2 linked regions of the Homo sapiens genome follow. The protein of the gene in region 2 interacts with the protein of the main gene of each other region in a pairwise test. Each region holds a gene or a part of one and is shown on either strand. Other genes may lie near its edges. The genes, in order: CEACAM1 and HAVCR2.

Region 1 (8,021 bases), on a different chromosome or scaffold from region 2:
AATCAGTAAGAACCAAAGCGACCCCATCATGCTGAACGTAAACTGTAAGTGACTCCTCACCCCTTCCTATATGTCCCTCTAGGATTACTCTGTCAATGGTGTGCAAAATGGATAAAACTCACAGGAGGCAGAATATCAATGAAGAGACCATTATAGCAAACAGAATTGCAAAGTGGTTAAGAGCTCAGCTCAGGCCGGGCACAGTGGCTCACGCCTGTAATCCCAGCAGTTTGGGAGGCCAAGGCGGGCGGATCACGAGGGCAGGAGATCGAGACCATCCTGGCTAATATGGTGAAACCCCGTGTCTACTAAAAATACAAAAAAAAATTAGCCGGGCATGGTGGCGGGCGCCTGTAGTCCCAGCTACTCGGGAGGCTGAGGCGGGAGAATGGCGTGAACCTGGGAGGCGGAGCTTTCAGTGAGCCGAGATGGTGCCACTGCACTCCAGTCTAGGCAACAGAGCAAGACTCTGTCTCAAAAAAAAAAAAAAAAAAAGAGCTCAGGCTCTGAATCAAATATACATATACTTAGTTGGTTTTTTTTGGTTGGTTGGGTTTTTTTGTTTGTTTTGTTGTTTTGAGACAGGGTCTCACTCTGTCACCCAGGCTGGAGTGCTGTGGTGTGATCAAAGCTCACTCCCGCCTCAATCCCCTGGGTTCAAGCAATCCTGCCACCTCAGCCTCCAGAGTAGCTGGGACTACAGGTTGCACCACCATGCCTGGCTAAGTTTTTAAGTTTTTTTGTAGAGTTGGGGTTTCACTGTGTTGCCCAGGCTGGTCTCAATCTCCTGGTCTCAGCCTCGGCCTCCCAAAGTGCTGGGATTACAGGAATGAGCCACTCTGCCCACCCCGTATTTAACTATTCTAAGTACCTCTCATACAGATGGAAGCATGCAATATTTGTCCTTTTGTGTCTGGCTTACTTCATTTAGCACAATGTCTTCAAGCTCCATCTATGTTGTAGAATGTATCAGAATTTCATTCCTTTTGGAGACTGAATAATATTATGCTGTGTAGATAGATACATCACATTTTGCTTATCCACTCATCCATCTATGGACAGTTAGGTTGCTTCCACCTTTTGGCTATTATGAATAATGCTATTACAAACATGGGTATACAAATATCTGTTCAAATCCCTGCTTTCAGTTCTTTTAAATAGATACTCAGAAGTGGAATTGCTGGATCAAATGGTAATCCTGTTTAATTTTGAAGAACCATCATACCATTTTCCACAGTGGCTATACCATTTCACATTCCCACCAGCAATGCACTAGAGTTCCAATTTCTCTACATCTTCAAAAACATTTGTTGCTTTCTGGTTTTGTTTTGTTTTTTATAATGGCCATCCTAATGGTTATAAGGTGGTATATCATTGGAGTTTTGATTTGCACTTCCCTAATGATTAGCAATATTTAGCATCTTTTCATGTGCTTATTTGCCATTTATCTTCTTTGGAGAAATGTTTATTCAAGTCCTTTGCCCATGTTTTAATTAGGTTGTTTGGGGATTTTTGGTTGAGTTGCAGTAGTTCTTTATATATTTTGGATATTAATCCCTTATCAGATATATGATTCTCAAATATTTTCTCCCATTCTATAAGAAGTCTTTTCACTTTTGTGATAATGTGCTTTGATACACAAAAGCTTTTAATTTTCATTAAGTCCAATTTCTCTACTTCTTCTTTCGTTGCCTATGCTTTTAGTGTCATAGCCAAGAAATCATTGCCAAATTCAATGTTCCAAAGTTTTCACTCTATCTTCCAAGAGCTTTATAGTTTTAGCTCTTACATTTAGGTCTTTTATGCATTTTGAATTAATTTTTATATATGGTGTTACATAAAGGTTCAATTTCATTCTTTTGCATGGATATCCAGTTTCTTCAATGCCATTTGTTGAAAAGACTATCCTTTCCCCACTGAATGATCTTGGCACCCTTGTCAAAAAACATTTGGCTATGTATGCAAACATTTCTTTCTGGGCTCTATATTTTATTCCACTGGTTTCTATTTCTTTTTGCCAGTACCATACTGTTTTGATTACTGTAGCTTTTGGATTTTGTTTGTTTGTTTTATTGTTGTTGTTTGGGTTTTTTTGTTTTGTTTTGTTTTTTTGCTTTTCTTTGTAGAGATGGCGTTTCACCATGTTGCCAAGGCTGGTCTCAAACTCCTGAGCTCAAGCAATCCACCCGCCTCCACCTCCCAAAGTGCTAAGATTACAGGTGTGATGATTACCATAGCTTTGTAAAAAATTTTGAAACCAGGAAGTGTGAGCCCTTCAACTTTGTTCTTTTTCAAGATTGCTTTGGCTATCCATGGTCCCTTCAGAGTCTATATAAATTTTAGAATGAATTTTTCTATTTCTGCAAAAAATATTACTGGAATTTTGATAGAGATTGCACTGAATCTGTAGATCACTTTGGGTAGTACTGTCATCTTAACAATATTAAGTCTTCTAATCCATGAAAATGGGGTGTCTTTTCAATTTATGTCTTATTTAATTTCTTTTGGCAATGTTTTGTATTTTCAGGGTACAAATCTTTCACCTCTTTGGTTAAGTTTATTTCTAAGTATTTTTAAAGCTCTTATAAATAGAATTTTTTTCTTAATTTTCCTTTGAATTGTTATTAGTATACAAAAATACAACTGATTTTTGCATGTGGATTTTGTATCCTGCCACTTTGCTAAATTTATTATTCTAACAGTTTTTTTGTGGAATCTCTAGGGTTTTCTATATATAAGTTAGTGTATTCTGCAAACAGGTATAATTTTACTTCTTTCCAATCTAGATGCTTTTTTTTTCTTGCCTAATTGTTCTGTCTAGGTCTTCCAATACTACATTGAATAGAAATGGCAAAAGCAGGCATCCTTGTCTTGTTCTTGATCTTAAAGGAAAAGTTTTCAATCTTTCACCATTGACTATGATGGTAGCTGGGGGTTTTCACATGTAGCATTTATTATGTTGAGAATTTCCTTCTATTCCTAGTTTCAGTGTTTTTTAGCATGAAAGAATGTTGAATTTTGTCAAATGCTTTTATCGACTCATTTTCATTACTGGTTATAGGTCTATTCAGATTTTCTATTTATTCATGATTCTATCATGGCAGGTTTTGTGTTTCTAGGAATTTGTTCATTTCATCCAGGTTATCCAATTTGTTGGCATTCAATTACTCATAGTACTCTTATAATCCTTATTATTTCTGCAGAATTAGTAGTAATGTTTTACTTTCATTTCTGACTTTAGTAATTTGAATCTTCTTTCTTTCTTAGTCAATCTAATTAACAGTTGTCAATTATAGTGATCTTTTTTGAAGAACAACTTTTTTTTTTCGGTTTGAGACAGGTTCTCACTCTGTCACCGAGGCTGATCATGGCTCACCACAGCCTCAACTTCCCGGGTTCAAGCAATCCTCCTGCTTCAGCCTCCTGGGTAGCTGAAACTACAGACAAGCACTACCACCTCCGGCTAATTTTTGTAATTTTTTGTAGAGACAGGGTTTCACCATCTTGCCCAGCTGGTCTCAAATTCCTGAGCTCAAGTGATACACCTGCCTCAGCCTCCCAAATTGCTGGGATTACAGTCATACACCACTGTACCTGGCCTACAGTTATAAATTTCTTTCTTGCACAAGATTCTTAACTACTCTGAGCCTCGGATTCCTCAACCGAAAATTGCACTGTGAATGCCTGCTCCATAGTATTGCACGGGTTTGGGGTTTTTGTTTTGTTTTTGAGACAGGGTGTCACTCTGTCACCCAGACTGGAGTGCAGTGGTGCAAACACAGCTCACTGCAGCCTCAACCTCCTGGGCTCAAGCAATTCCCTCACCTTAGCCTCCTAAGTAGTACATACTACCACATCTGGCTAATTTATTTTTATTTTTGTTTTCAGAGAGACAGAATCTCACCATGTTACCCAGGCTGGACTCGAACTCCTGGGCTCAAGCAATCCTCCCATCTGTTTCCCAAAGTGCTGAGATTACAGGTGTGAGCCACCACGCCTGGCCCCATAGTGTTATTTTAAAGATTTAATGTAATAATAAACCTTCAGCAAAACACCACACACAGAGGAAATGTTTCATAAATGTTAGCTGCTATTACTACTACTATTATCATTAGCCTTGAAATCAGGTAGTCCTAGGGTCAAATCTCAGATCCACCTCTCACTAGCCATCTGACTTTAGGTAAGCCTTTTACCACTCTAAGCTTCCATTTTTTCATGTTTAAAATGGAAATAATGTCTACCTGACAGCACTATTTTATGGATCAAATAAGATACATGTAAAGCATTTAGCAGCACAGGGCCTGGCACACAGGAAGTACTCCACAAAAGTAGCTAACATAGCATTAGTCACCAGCCTGAGTTGACTGGTGAGGGTTAAGCCCCAAATAGTTGCAACAGATATAAACAAGAAATAGGCTAGACACAGTGGCTCACACCTGTAATCCCAACATTTGGGAGGCCGAGGCTGGAGGATCTCTTGAGCCCAGGAATCCAAGACCAGCCTAGGCAATATAGTGGAACCCTATCTCTACAAAAATTATTTTTTTTTAATTAGCCAGGTGGGTGGGCGTGGTGGCTCACGCCTGTAATCCCAACACTTTGGGAGGTTGAGGCAGGCGGGTCACCTGAGGTCGGGAGTTCAAGACCAGCCTGACCAGGATGGAGAAACCCCGTCTCTACTAAAAATACAAAATTAGCCAGGCGTGGTGGCGCATGCCTGTAATCCCAGCAATTCAGGAGGCTGAGGTAGGAGAATCGCTTGAACCTGGGAGGCAGAGGTTGCAGTGAGCCGAGATCACGCCATTGCACTCTAGCCTAGGCAACAAGAGCAAAACTCGGTCTCAAAAAAAAAAAAAAGAAAGAAAAAAATTAGCCAGGTGTGGTGGCATGTGCTTATAGTCTCAGCTACTGAGGAGACTGAGGTGGGAGGATCACTTGATCCCAAGAGGCTACAATGAGCCATGATTGTGCCACTGCACTCCAGCCTGGGTGATAGAGTGAGAACCTGCCTCAAAAAAAAAAAAAAAAAAAAAGAAGAAGAAGAAATAGATGCAAAAGGTATTATTTATATATTATATATATATATATATATATATATGGAGGGAGAAGCATTATACAAGAAACCCACTGGGACATGGCTATGATCAAATATGGGAAAGGGGGAAAAAAGGAGGTAAAGCAAAGTCTCAAGCCTGGTATGTTAGTTTCCATCTACTGAGATACAGTGAAGATGGGATTAAACATACGAGATAATTTATTGGGGAAAATGCCTGTGAGGGAAAGTAAGGCGAGAGTGAGAGGAACCTCAGACCATGATGCAGATCTGATTCCTGTGGAAGAGAAAGAGAGGAAGGAAGTTTTAGATTGAAGTGCAGTTTTTGTTTGTTTGTTTTTTGAGACAGAGTCTCACTCTGTTGCCCAGGCTTGAGTGCAGTAGTGTGATCTCGGCTCACTGAAACCTCTGCCCCCCGGGTTCAAGCGATTCTCCTGCCTCAGCCTCTCAAGTAGCTGGGATTATAGGCACCTGCCACCGCACCCAGCTAAATTTTGTATTTTTAGTAGAGATAGGGTTTCACCATCTTGGCCAGGCTGGTCTTGAACTCCTGACCTCGTGATCCACCCGCCTCAGCCTCCCAAAGTTCTGGGATTACAGGCGTCAGCCACCGCGCCCGGCCTGCAGTGCAGTTCTAAGAGCATTTCTGCAAGGCTGACAGGGAGTCCTCCAGCCATTCACACTTCAGAATAAAACAGTCACACAAAACTGGGCTAGCTTTCATACCCCTGCTGGGAGCCTGTGGGAAGCCAGTTCTCTATGCAAAAGAGGTGGTGAATTCAGAATGCACCAACTGCCACAACTGAGACACTGAGAAAAAGATGCAACCACGAAAAAGGTGGAAAGTTCTAATCACATACAAAATAGCAATCAGCCTTTCTCATATTTCAAAGCCTTAAAAATGGCTGAGCGCAGAAAAGCCAGGGTGGAATTGGCAGAAGAGAGATCATCAACCTAGAAACATGGTGACTGGGGTTGGGCGCAGTGGCTCACGCCTATAATCCAAGCACTTTGGGAGGCCGAGGCAGGCGGATCATGAGGTCAGGAGTTCAAGACCAGTCTGACCAATATGGTGAAACCCCGTCTCTACTAAAAAAATACAGAAATTAGCCAGGTGTGGTGGCACGTGCCTGTAGTCCAGCCTGAGGCAGGAGAATCGCTTGAACCTGGGAGGCGGAGGTTGCAGTGAGCCAAGATCATGCTACTGCACTCCAGCCTGAGAGACAGAGCAAGACTCTGTCTCAAAAAAAAAAAAGAAAAGAAAAAAAGAAACATGGTGATTGAAAAAAAAAAATTGCAAGGATATAGTTAGCTAATCACCTTCCAGCAACCTTCCCACAACGAAACTGTATTCCTTGAAGGAACAATTAGAAACTACTTCATTCTGAGAGTTGTTTCCCAGCCCCCATTGTAAAATAATTTCACTTTCATTTCTTCTCCTCTTTTCTCTCCATGACAGATAATGCTCTACCACAAGAAAATGGCCTCTCACCTGGGGCCATTGCTGGCATTGTGATTGGAGTAGTGGCCCTGGTTGCTCTGATAGCAGTAGCCCTGGCATGTTTTCTGCATTTCGGGAAGACCGGCAGGTATGATGGCCTTTCCTCTTGTTCTGTTTCCTCCAAGGCTGACTGCCATGCTTGGGAGAGGGAAAGAATTCTTTGCCTGTCTCTGGGCCTGGATCTCATACTCCTCCCACTAAACTCCTGCTTCTCGGCACTAATTCCCACAGGTTTCCTCTTCCCTGGTCTTCGTGCTCCCTGTCTCCCATTATCTCTTGGACATGGGTATTCCAATCCCCATCTAATCTAGAGGAAGAGACTCAAGTATGTTCCTCTGTCCCCTAGTCAGGGAAAGCAAGGTCTAAGAAGGAAAACAAATGAAAAAATGAAAGAAGCAGCAGGAGAAAGCAAGTCATGTGCTCTGTTGACCACATTGGAAGAGGAGGGAGAAATAGCATAGGAAGAGAACCTAAGAGAAAGCAAAAACAACCAAAGTCCTCTTGAACAATAAATAGAGAAAAAAAAAAAAGTATCTACCCCGGAAAACAAAATGGGAAAGGTTTTAAGGATAGAAGTAGGCACAGAAGCAGCTGATAAAGAATGAAATGAAATGTGAACATCCAGCAAACAGGAAAAGAGTAAACACTAGAAGGGATTGTAGTTAGACTGAAGAACGAGGCCCTCAGAAGAAAGGCAGTATGAACATCAAGGACTCTAAGGAATTACCTGCTCACAGTGTCCTTCCTAACTTACGGAACAAAGATCCTGTGCTTGGGAATAGCAGTCACAGTTTCTGATATTTATTTAGGGCAAGCGACCAGCGTGATCTCACAGAGCACAAACCCTCAGTCTCCAACCACAGTAAGTAAAGCCACTTACCCCAGTGAGAACTGGTATGTTCCACCACGTGCCCTCCCCTGGCAGGGAATCCTGGATTCCCAAACCACTCCCTCCCTTCTGAATTTTCACAGAAAGGATCTCTATTTCCCAACCCTAAGGTGGCATAGGTCTTCCCACCCTTCCTAGCCACAGGAGTCCCCTGAGACACATCTGAGGAGAGAGGCTCACTCTGCCTAGGCCAGGCAGGCCTGAGGAAGATCCCATGTTTCCAGGAGCCATTTCCTCAGCCTTACTCCTTCCGCCTCCTGCCTCTATTACGGATGTGGGCACTCTCCCTTGGTGAGACTTTCCTTATCTTGTGGGTGCTGTGGGTGCTACAAGTCTCAATGCCCCTCCTTGCCACTGGAGCATGTTGCTGAGAAACACATCTGGGCAAAAATCAAGGCCTTGTGAACTGGTAGAACTCTTCACAAGTGGATTGTGGCCTCCTGTGGTTCTGCCCCTGCCCCCTCTCTGGTACTAACATGCTGGGTCTGGACCATACACTCTGAGGGAAGTAAATTCCTTAACTGATCCTTAAACTCCCCACCCTCCAACTGCCACCTCCTTCAGCTAGAATCACCTGA
Region 2 (8,021 bases):
GCATAAACAGAAAAGGAGAGAGATGACTCAGAAGAAAGGGATAAAAAGAAGGATGAAGTCTTGGCCTAGGCAATGGAGATTAAAAAGCCCTTTCATATTTCATCAGTTAGGAGAGGGGCAAAGAAGTTTTGAGCAGCAGTGAGGTATGGATGGTCATCTCAGAGAGTACACTAGAAAGATGGAAGATTGTGGGGCATTATTGAGTGTCAGTTTGTTTTTGTGAGGTCATGACTTAAAAAGCTGTCACCTTGATTTTAATATTTTCTCCAGCAACTTCCAGGGAAAAGATTGGAAATGAAACAGGCCTTTCTTATCTGTACTTCTCAGTAGCCATGTTTTTTTGGAGTGGCATATATGTGTGTGTACAAAGCATCAGATTTCCTCTAGATCCCATCACTCTTTATACAAACTAGAATAAGTGCTAATATGTATAAATTATGGTCATATTATATATATATATATATATATATATACACACACACATATATATATAAAGTGGTCTCTAATATATATAATAGTAAAGCTCAAAGTTTTACTTTGAGCCATGGCAGAAGTCAAAAAAGTAGTGAGTGTTATCAGTGCTCCTTAACAATCCCTAGTCTGTTTTGGAAATACTCAAGTGAGGCTAAGTGCAATGACTCATGCCTATAATCCCAACATTTTGGGAGGCTGAGGTGGGAGGATTATTTAAGCCCAGGAGTTTGAGACCAGCTTGAGCAACATAGCAAGATCTCATTTCTATTTTTATTTTATTTTATTTTATTTATTTTTTGAGATGGAGTTTCACTCTTGTTGCCCAGGCTGGAGTGCAATGGCACGATCTCAGCTCACTGCAACCTCCGCCTCCTGGGCTCAAGTGATTCTCCCACCTCAGCTTCCCGAGTAGCTGGAATTATAGGCATGTGCCCCCATGCCCGGCTAATTTTGTATTTTTAGTAGAGATGAGGTTTCTCCACGTTGGTCAGGCTGGTCTCAAACTCCCAGCCTCAGGTTATCCACTCACCTCGGCCTCCCAAAGTGCTAGGATTACAGGCGTAAGCCACCGTGCTCAGCCTCTATTTTTAAATATGTATATATTCATCACGCCTGTAATCCCAGCACTTTGGGAGGCTGAAGTAGGAGGATCACCTGAGCTCAGGAGATTGAGACCAATTTTCTGGGCAACATGGCAAAACCCTGTCTCTACCAAAAAAAAAAAAAAAAAAAAAAAAAAAAAAAAAAAAAAAACTAGCCAGGTGTGGTGGCATATGCCTGTAATCTCAGCTACTTGGGAGGCTGAGGCACAAGAATTGCTTGAACCCAGGAGGCAGAGGTTGAAGTGAGCCAAGATCACACCACTGTAGTCCAGCTCCCAGGTGACAGAGTAAGACTCTGTCCCAATAATAATAAATATATATATATATGTGTATACATATATATACATATATATATATTCATGTGATCAATTCAAAAATTCCATGGCTATCTCTGAATAAACCCAGGTAAGTGTGGGTGGGGTAGTTTCTTTTTCTGAATAATCCATTTAACCATAATCGCAGAAACCATAAAGATGAGGAGCAGGACAGTCCTGGTTTCAAATCCAGTATCTATCAATTAACTGTGTAAATGCAGGCAAGTGACCTAACCTTTTAGCATGCTGATTCTCCATTAGAAACATATTAGTACCTATCTCATAGGGTAGTTACGAGAATTTAATGCACGTAAAGCACTTGGCAGCTTCAGTCCACAGTTAGTGGGGGGACCAACTCATGTTTTTCTTGGACTGTTCCAGTTTTAGCCCTAGAAGTCCCATATATCTTAGGAACACCCTTTAGTCTTGAGCTAATCTGAGGTGATTGCTCACTCTACACACACAGTCCCTGTTTGTGTATTAGTAAGAAAGGCTGCTATGTCATATTACGCTCTGGGGCATAAGGACTTGGTTTCTGCCCTAAAAGAAAATAAAATAGACACAATTATAAAAGTGTGTGAGTGGCCAGGCACAGTGGCTCACGCCTGTAATCCCAAAACATTGGGAGGTCGAGGTGGACGGATCACAAGGTCAGGAGATCAAGAACATCTTGCCCAACATGGTGAAACCCTGTCTCTACTAAAAATATAAAAATTAGCCAGGCGTGGTGGTACATGCCTGTAGTCCCAGCTACTCTGGAAGCTGAGTCAGGAGAAACACTTGAACCCGGGAGGCAGAGGTTACAGTGAGCTGAGATCGTGCCACTGCACTCCAGCGTCCATCTCCAAAAAAACAAAAGTGTGCGAGGTTTTGGGGGTACTGGAAGTATTTAGATCTTGATTGTGATGATGGCTTCCTACTGTAATTCTCCATCAAAATTCATCAACTTCAACACACTTCTTTTTTTTTTTTTTTTTGGAGACTGTCTTATTCTGTTGCCCAGGGTGGAGTGCAATGATGCAATCACCGCTCACTGCAGCCTCCTGAGCTCAAGTGATCCTCCCACCTCAGCCTCCTGAGTAGATGGGACTACAGGTGTGTGCCACCATGCCCAGCTCATTATTATTATTATTACGTTGTAGAGGCAGGATCCTGCTTTGCTGCCCAGGCTGATCTTGGTCTCAAACTCCTGGGCTCAACTGATCCTCTCACCTCAGCTTCCGAAAGTGTTGAAAATACAGGCATGAGCCACTGCACCTGGCCATTGTATTTATTTATTTATTTATTTGCTTATTTATTTATATTTTATTACTTTTTTTTTTAAGACAGTCTCACTCTGTCACCCAGGCTGGAGTGCAGTGGCATGATCTGAGCTCACTGTAACCTCCACCTACCAGGTTTGAGTGATTCCTCTGCCTCAGCCTCCTGAGTAGCTGGGATTACAGGCATGCGCCACCACACCCGGCTAATTTTGTATTTTTAGTAGAGATGGGGTCTCACCATGTTGGCCAAGCTGGTCTCGAACTCCTGACCTCAAATGATCCACCCCCCTCAGCCTCCCAAAGTGCTGGGATTACAGGCGTGAGCCACTGCGCCGGGCCTGTTTTTTTGTTTTTGTTTGTTTGCTAGTTTAAAAAAAAAAAAGGGATAAGTAACTTAGAAAAAGCTATGTGCTAAGTACCATGATGGAGGAAAACATTCTCTAACCCCAGTCACGACCCAGTGTTAAAGGGACTTGCAGTCTACTGCCAGAGAGGTATGCCTGAGAAACCAATAACAGAAAAGTGCACAGAAGGAAGTGTTTTTTGTTGTTGTGTTTCGTAACAAACCTAGACATATTCATGAATTAAAGAAATTAGTTTACTGGAATCAGCCTGCCTGGATTTGATTTCCGGTTCTGCCAGGTACTGATGTTGAAACCTCGGGAAGGCAGCTTACTCTAAGCTTGACTTCCCTTCACTGTAAAATGGGGATGGTACTATTCCTTATCTCATAAGACAGTAATGATGATAAAATGTATGTAAAACATTTAACGCAGTGGCTGCCTGACACACAATAAATATTAAATAAAAATTAGCCATTATTGTTAGGATTTGGATGGACAAAAGGGTATTTAGTCTAATCATCTTTGGGTATAAACATGAATTTGCATTTCTATCTAGGTTTTTACTGGTTCTCACTGAAGAATTTGTTATCAGAGGGAGAGAGAAACAAAAACACTTACATTTGAAAATTAAAGCGCCGAAGATAAGAGCCAGAGCCAGCCCAGCACAGATCCCTGCTCCGATGTAGATGCCTATTCTGATGGTTGCTCCAGAGTCCCGTAAGTCATTGGCCAATCTAGAGTCCCGTAACTCATTGGCCAATGTGGATATTTGCTATGGAAACACAAACAGGATTTAAGCAGAAAACAGCTAGAAATCGCTTGTGTAATCAGCTTCAAGATTTGTGAATTGGACCATCCCTTTTACAACATCACAGGATGGCTGAGTCCTTCAAATCACCTTTGATCTGTCACCTTGTAGCCAACACTCAAGCCAACCCAAGAAAGGGTCTCCCTTAACCTTTGGAGTTAGCAAGGAAACAAAATGTGCCCTTCTGTGTTGTGGGTAGAGAAGGAGCTCTTAAAAAAAAAAAAAAAAAAAGAGAGAAGGAGCTCTTAAGACCCTTTCCCTGCCCCTGCAAAAATTGGCTTTAGAGTGGAGTCTTGTTGGTTCAAGATCCCCTAAGATTCCCCAGAGAGTTTTAGAGTAGTTTACATTTAGTGTCTTGCTATGAAACGTCTATTTTTCACAAAAAGACAGTGATTCAATAGCCAAGACTTTACAGCCAGACGGTCGTGGATTCAAATCCCAGCTCTGAGGCCGGGCGCGGTGGCTAATGCCTGTAATCCCAGCACTTTGGGAGGCCTAGGCAGGCGGATCACCTGACATCAGGAGTTTGAGACCAGCCTGGACAACATGGTGAAACCCCGTCTCTACTAAAAATACAAAACTTAGCCAGGCGTGGTAACACATGCCTGTAATCCTAGCTAGTGGGGAGGCTGAGGCAGGAGAATCACTTAAACCCAGGAGGCAAAGACTGGAGTACTCGAGTTGAGATCATGCCACTGCACGCCAACCTGGGCAACAGAGCGAGACTCCATCTCAAAAAAAAAAAAAAAAAAAAAATTCCCAGCTCTGCCACTAAGGGCTGAGTAATCCTGTAGAGTTATCAGGAAAACTAAGTGAGAGAAAATATAAAATGCTTAGTACAGGGCCTGGTACATAATAAATGTTCAATCAATCGTAGCTATTATTGCTATTGCTCTAGTTAACTTGATTTTCTGATAACTGAGAGCCACACAAAATAAATCCTGTTTCTAAAATTTCAGTCTATGGGTTCTCTCTTTTTCTCTCTTTAAAAACAATGATTAGGCCAGGTGCGGTGGCTCACGCCTGTAGTCCCAGCACTTTGGGAGGCCAAGGCAGGCAGATCACGAGGTCAGGAGTTCAAGACCAGCCTGGCCAACATGGTGAAACCCCATCTCTACTAAAAATACAAAAATTAGCCAGGTGTGGTGGCGGGCACCTATAGTCCCAGCTATTTGGGAGGCTGAGGCAGGACAATCGCTTGAACCCAGGAGGCAGAGGTTGCAGTGAGCCAAGGTTGTGCCATTGTACTCCAGCCTGGGCGACAAGAGCAAAACTCCATCTCAAAAATAAATAATAAATTAATAAATAAATAATAATTATAGGCCAGGCTCACACCTATAATCCCAGCACTTTGGGAAGCTGAGATGGGAGGATCACTTGAGACCAGGAGTTAGGGACCAGCCTAATAATATTGAGACCCCATTTATACAAAACACACACACACACACACACACACACACACACACACATATAATTATAAGCATTTTTAAAACAATGAATTTAAGGAAGTTAAATCTTCCATTTATTCAATATACATTTACAAATTGATTCAATACACATTACTCCTGCAATAACAGGAGTCCTATATGCAAGATATTGTGCATTAAGCATTGTGGGCACATACAGGTCCTTAAAAAGCACTGTTTGATTGCAAAGAGAGAAGGAGCAAATACAAGATGCTGAGCATCAGTTGTGAATACACAAGCAAGAAACTGAGTCAAATAAATGTGGGCTCCTGGATATGCCCTCAAGTAATTTTTTTTTTTTTTTTTTTTTTGAGACAAGGCCTTGCCCTGTCACCTAGGATGGAGTGCAGGGGCATGATCACAGCTCAATGCAGCCTCAACCTACTGGGCTCAAGTGATCCTCCTGCCTCAGCCTCCCAAGTAGCTGGAACTACAGGTTTGCAGCACCATGCCTGGCCAAATTTTAAAAAATATTTTTTGTAGAGACAGGGTGTCACTATGTGGCCCAGGCTAGTCTCAAACTCCTGGTCTCAAGCATTCCTTCCACCTTGGCCTCCTAAAGTGCTGGGATTACAGGCATGAGACACTGTGCCCGGCCTCCTCAAAGAATTTTTAAGTCATTGCTGCAAGCTTGCCTTCTAGTGGTTTTTCTTTTATGAGGGAATTTCGCTCTTGTTGCCCAGGCTGGTGTGCAGTGGCGCGACCTCAGCTCACTGCAACCTCCACCTCCTGGATTCAAGCGATTCTCCTGTCTCAGCCTCCTGAGTAGCTGAGACTACACAGGCACACACCACCATACCTGGCTAATTTTTTGTATTTTTAGTAGAGATGGGGTTTCACCATGTTGACCAGGCTGGTCTCAAACCCCTGACAGGTGATCCACCCTACTTAGCCTCCCAAAGTGCTGGGATTACAGACGTGAGTCACTGCGCCCAGCCAGTTTTTCTTTTATTCTGAGAAGGTAGCAGGGACAGTAAAATTGAGGTTTATTAAGGTATGGCTTTATTTATAGTTAAATACATAAAACTGGCTGGGCACCATGGCTCATGCCTGTAATCCCAGCACTTTGGGAGGCCAAGTTGGGCGGATCACCTGAGGTCAGGAGTTCAAGACCAGCCTGACCAACATGGAGAAACCCTGTCTCTACTAAAAATACAAAATTAGGCCAGGTGCCATGGCTCACGCCTGCAATCTCAGCACTTTGGGAGGCCGAGGCAGGTGGATCACCTGAGGTCAGGAGTTCAAGATCAGCCTGGCCAATGTGGTGAAACTCCGTCTCTACTAAAAATAAAAAAATTAGCCGGGTGTGGTGGCTCATGCCTGTAATCCCAGCTACTCGGAAGGCTGAGGCAGGAGAATCGCTTGAACCCGGGAGGCGGAGGTTGAGGTGAGCCAGGATCACACCCTTGCACTCCAGCCTGGGCAACAAGAGCGAAATTCTGTCTAAAAAAAAAAAAAAAAAACCTCTTCACTTTGAATATTCCTGACTGGTGTCTTGCCATATTTAAAGAGATAAATTTAAATACTCTTTCCCATTAGGATTGCAATGGAAGCAAGAAGAATGGTATTCTAGGGAGATGAAGAATCTTTGAACCTTCCACAGGGTAGACAGTTGTGAAATTGAAGAATAAGAGGGACAAAATGCTAATGTTTCTTCTTTGTGGTTTTCAAGCTCTTACTATATGCCAGGCACTTTACACACATCATGTCAGTCCTTCATTACAGCAGGCCTATGAGGTTAGAACTGTCATCATCAACATGTTACAGCCCAGGAATCTGAAGCTAAGGGAACTTAAGGCTTTTTACCCCAAGGACAAGGTGGGCATGAAGGAAGTCTAAAGCCATGATTTCCCCTCCAAGTTGAGTACAACATAGCTCACAAAAAAAGTTACTTACTGTTAGATTTATATCAGGGAGGCTCCCCAGTGTCTGTGTCTCTGCTATAAAAAGAGAGAGAGAGAGAGAGAGAGGAAAAATAGCCAATAGTATAGTTAAGAACGTTTTCTTTTATCTAAGTTTTTAAAAAATCTTAATGATGCCTATAATCCTATTTGAAATGAATTCTACTCCGTACTTGTCACAATAATTAATGGAGAGACAGACAAAATTTACTGAACACCCAGGAATCAACTTTAGGATGGCCACATTTTTTCATCTAGATAATGAACCGTACTGTTTTATGAAATAGAGACTTCTGCCAGGAAGTCCTACATTAAATATGTGCTTTGTTTTTTTCACAGGACCCTAATGAGTTCTACAAACATCTAGCAATATTGATAAGACTCAGGCATTATTTATTTATTTATTTATTTAGACACAGAATTTCACTCTGTCACCCAGGCTGGAGTGCAGTGGCATAATCTCAGCTCACCGCAACCTCGGCCTCCCTGGTTCAAGCAATTCTCATCCCTCATCCTCCCAAGTAGCTGGGACTACATGCATGCACCACCACGCCCAGCTAATTTTTGTATTTTTAGTAGAGACGAGGCCATGTTGACCAGGCTGGTTGTGAACTCCTGACCTCAGGTGATCTGCCCACCTCAGCCTCCCAAAATGCTGGGATTACAGGTGTGAACGACCAGGCTTGGCCTCAGGCATTATATTCTAATTAGATTTTAAAAGACAACAAAAATTCATTTCCTTCTTTTTTGTTTTTTTGAGACAGTCTCACTCTGTTGCCCAGGCTGGAGTGCAGTGGCACAATCTCAACTCACTGCAACCTCCATGTTCTTTTTCTTTTTTTTCTTTTTG

What was found.
Region 1: the proteins of HAVCR2 (region 2) and CEACAM1 interact in binary tests that used the Homo sapiens proteins (3 or more experiments, as listed by UniProt).

The regions. Positions count from the first base shown.
Region 1 is NC_000019.10:42,510,971-42,518,991, reverse strand, and holds part of CEACAM1 (cell adhesion molecule CEACAM1 isoform 1 precursor), read left to right. Parts: coding exon 1-44; intron 45-3,888; coding exon of another isoform or gene 3,889-3,981; intron 3,982-6,512; coding exon 6,513-6,642; intron 6,643-7,363; coding exon 7,364-7,416; intron 7,417-8,021.
Region 2 is NC_000005.10:157,091,692-157,099,712, forward strand, and holds part of HAVCR2 (hepatitis A virus cellular receptor 2 precursor), read right to left. Parts: intron 7,211-8,021; coding exon 7,167-7,210; intron 3,769-7,166; coding exon 3,615-3,768; intron 1-3,614. UniProt on the Homo sapiens protein: Cell surface receptor implicated in modulating innate and adaptive immune responses. Generally accepted to have an inhibiting function.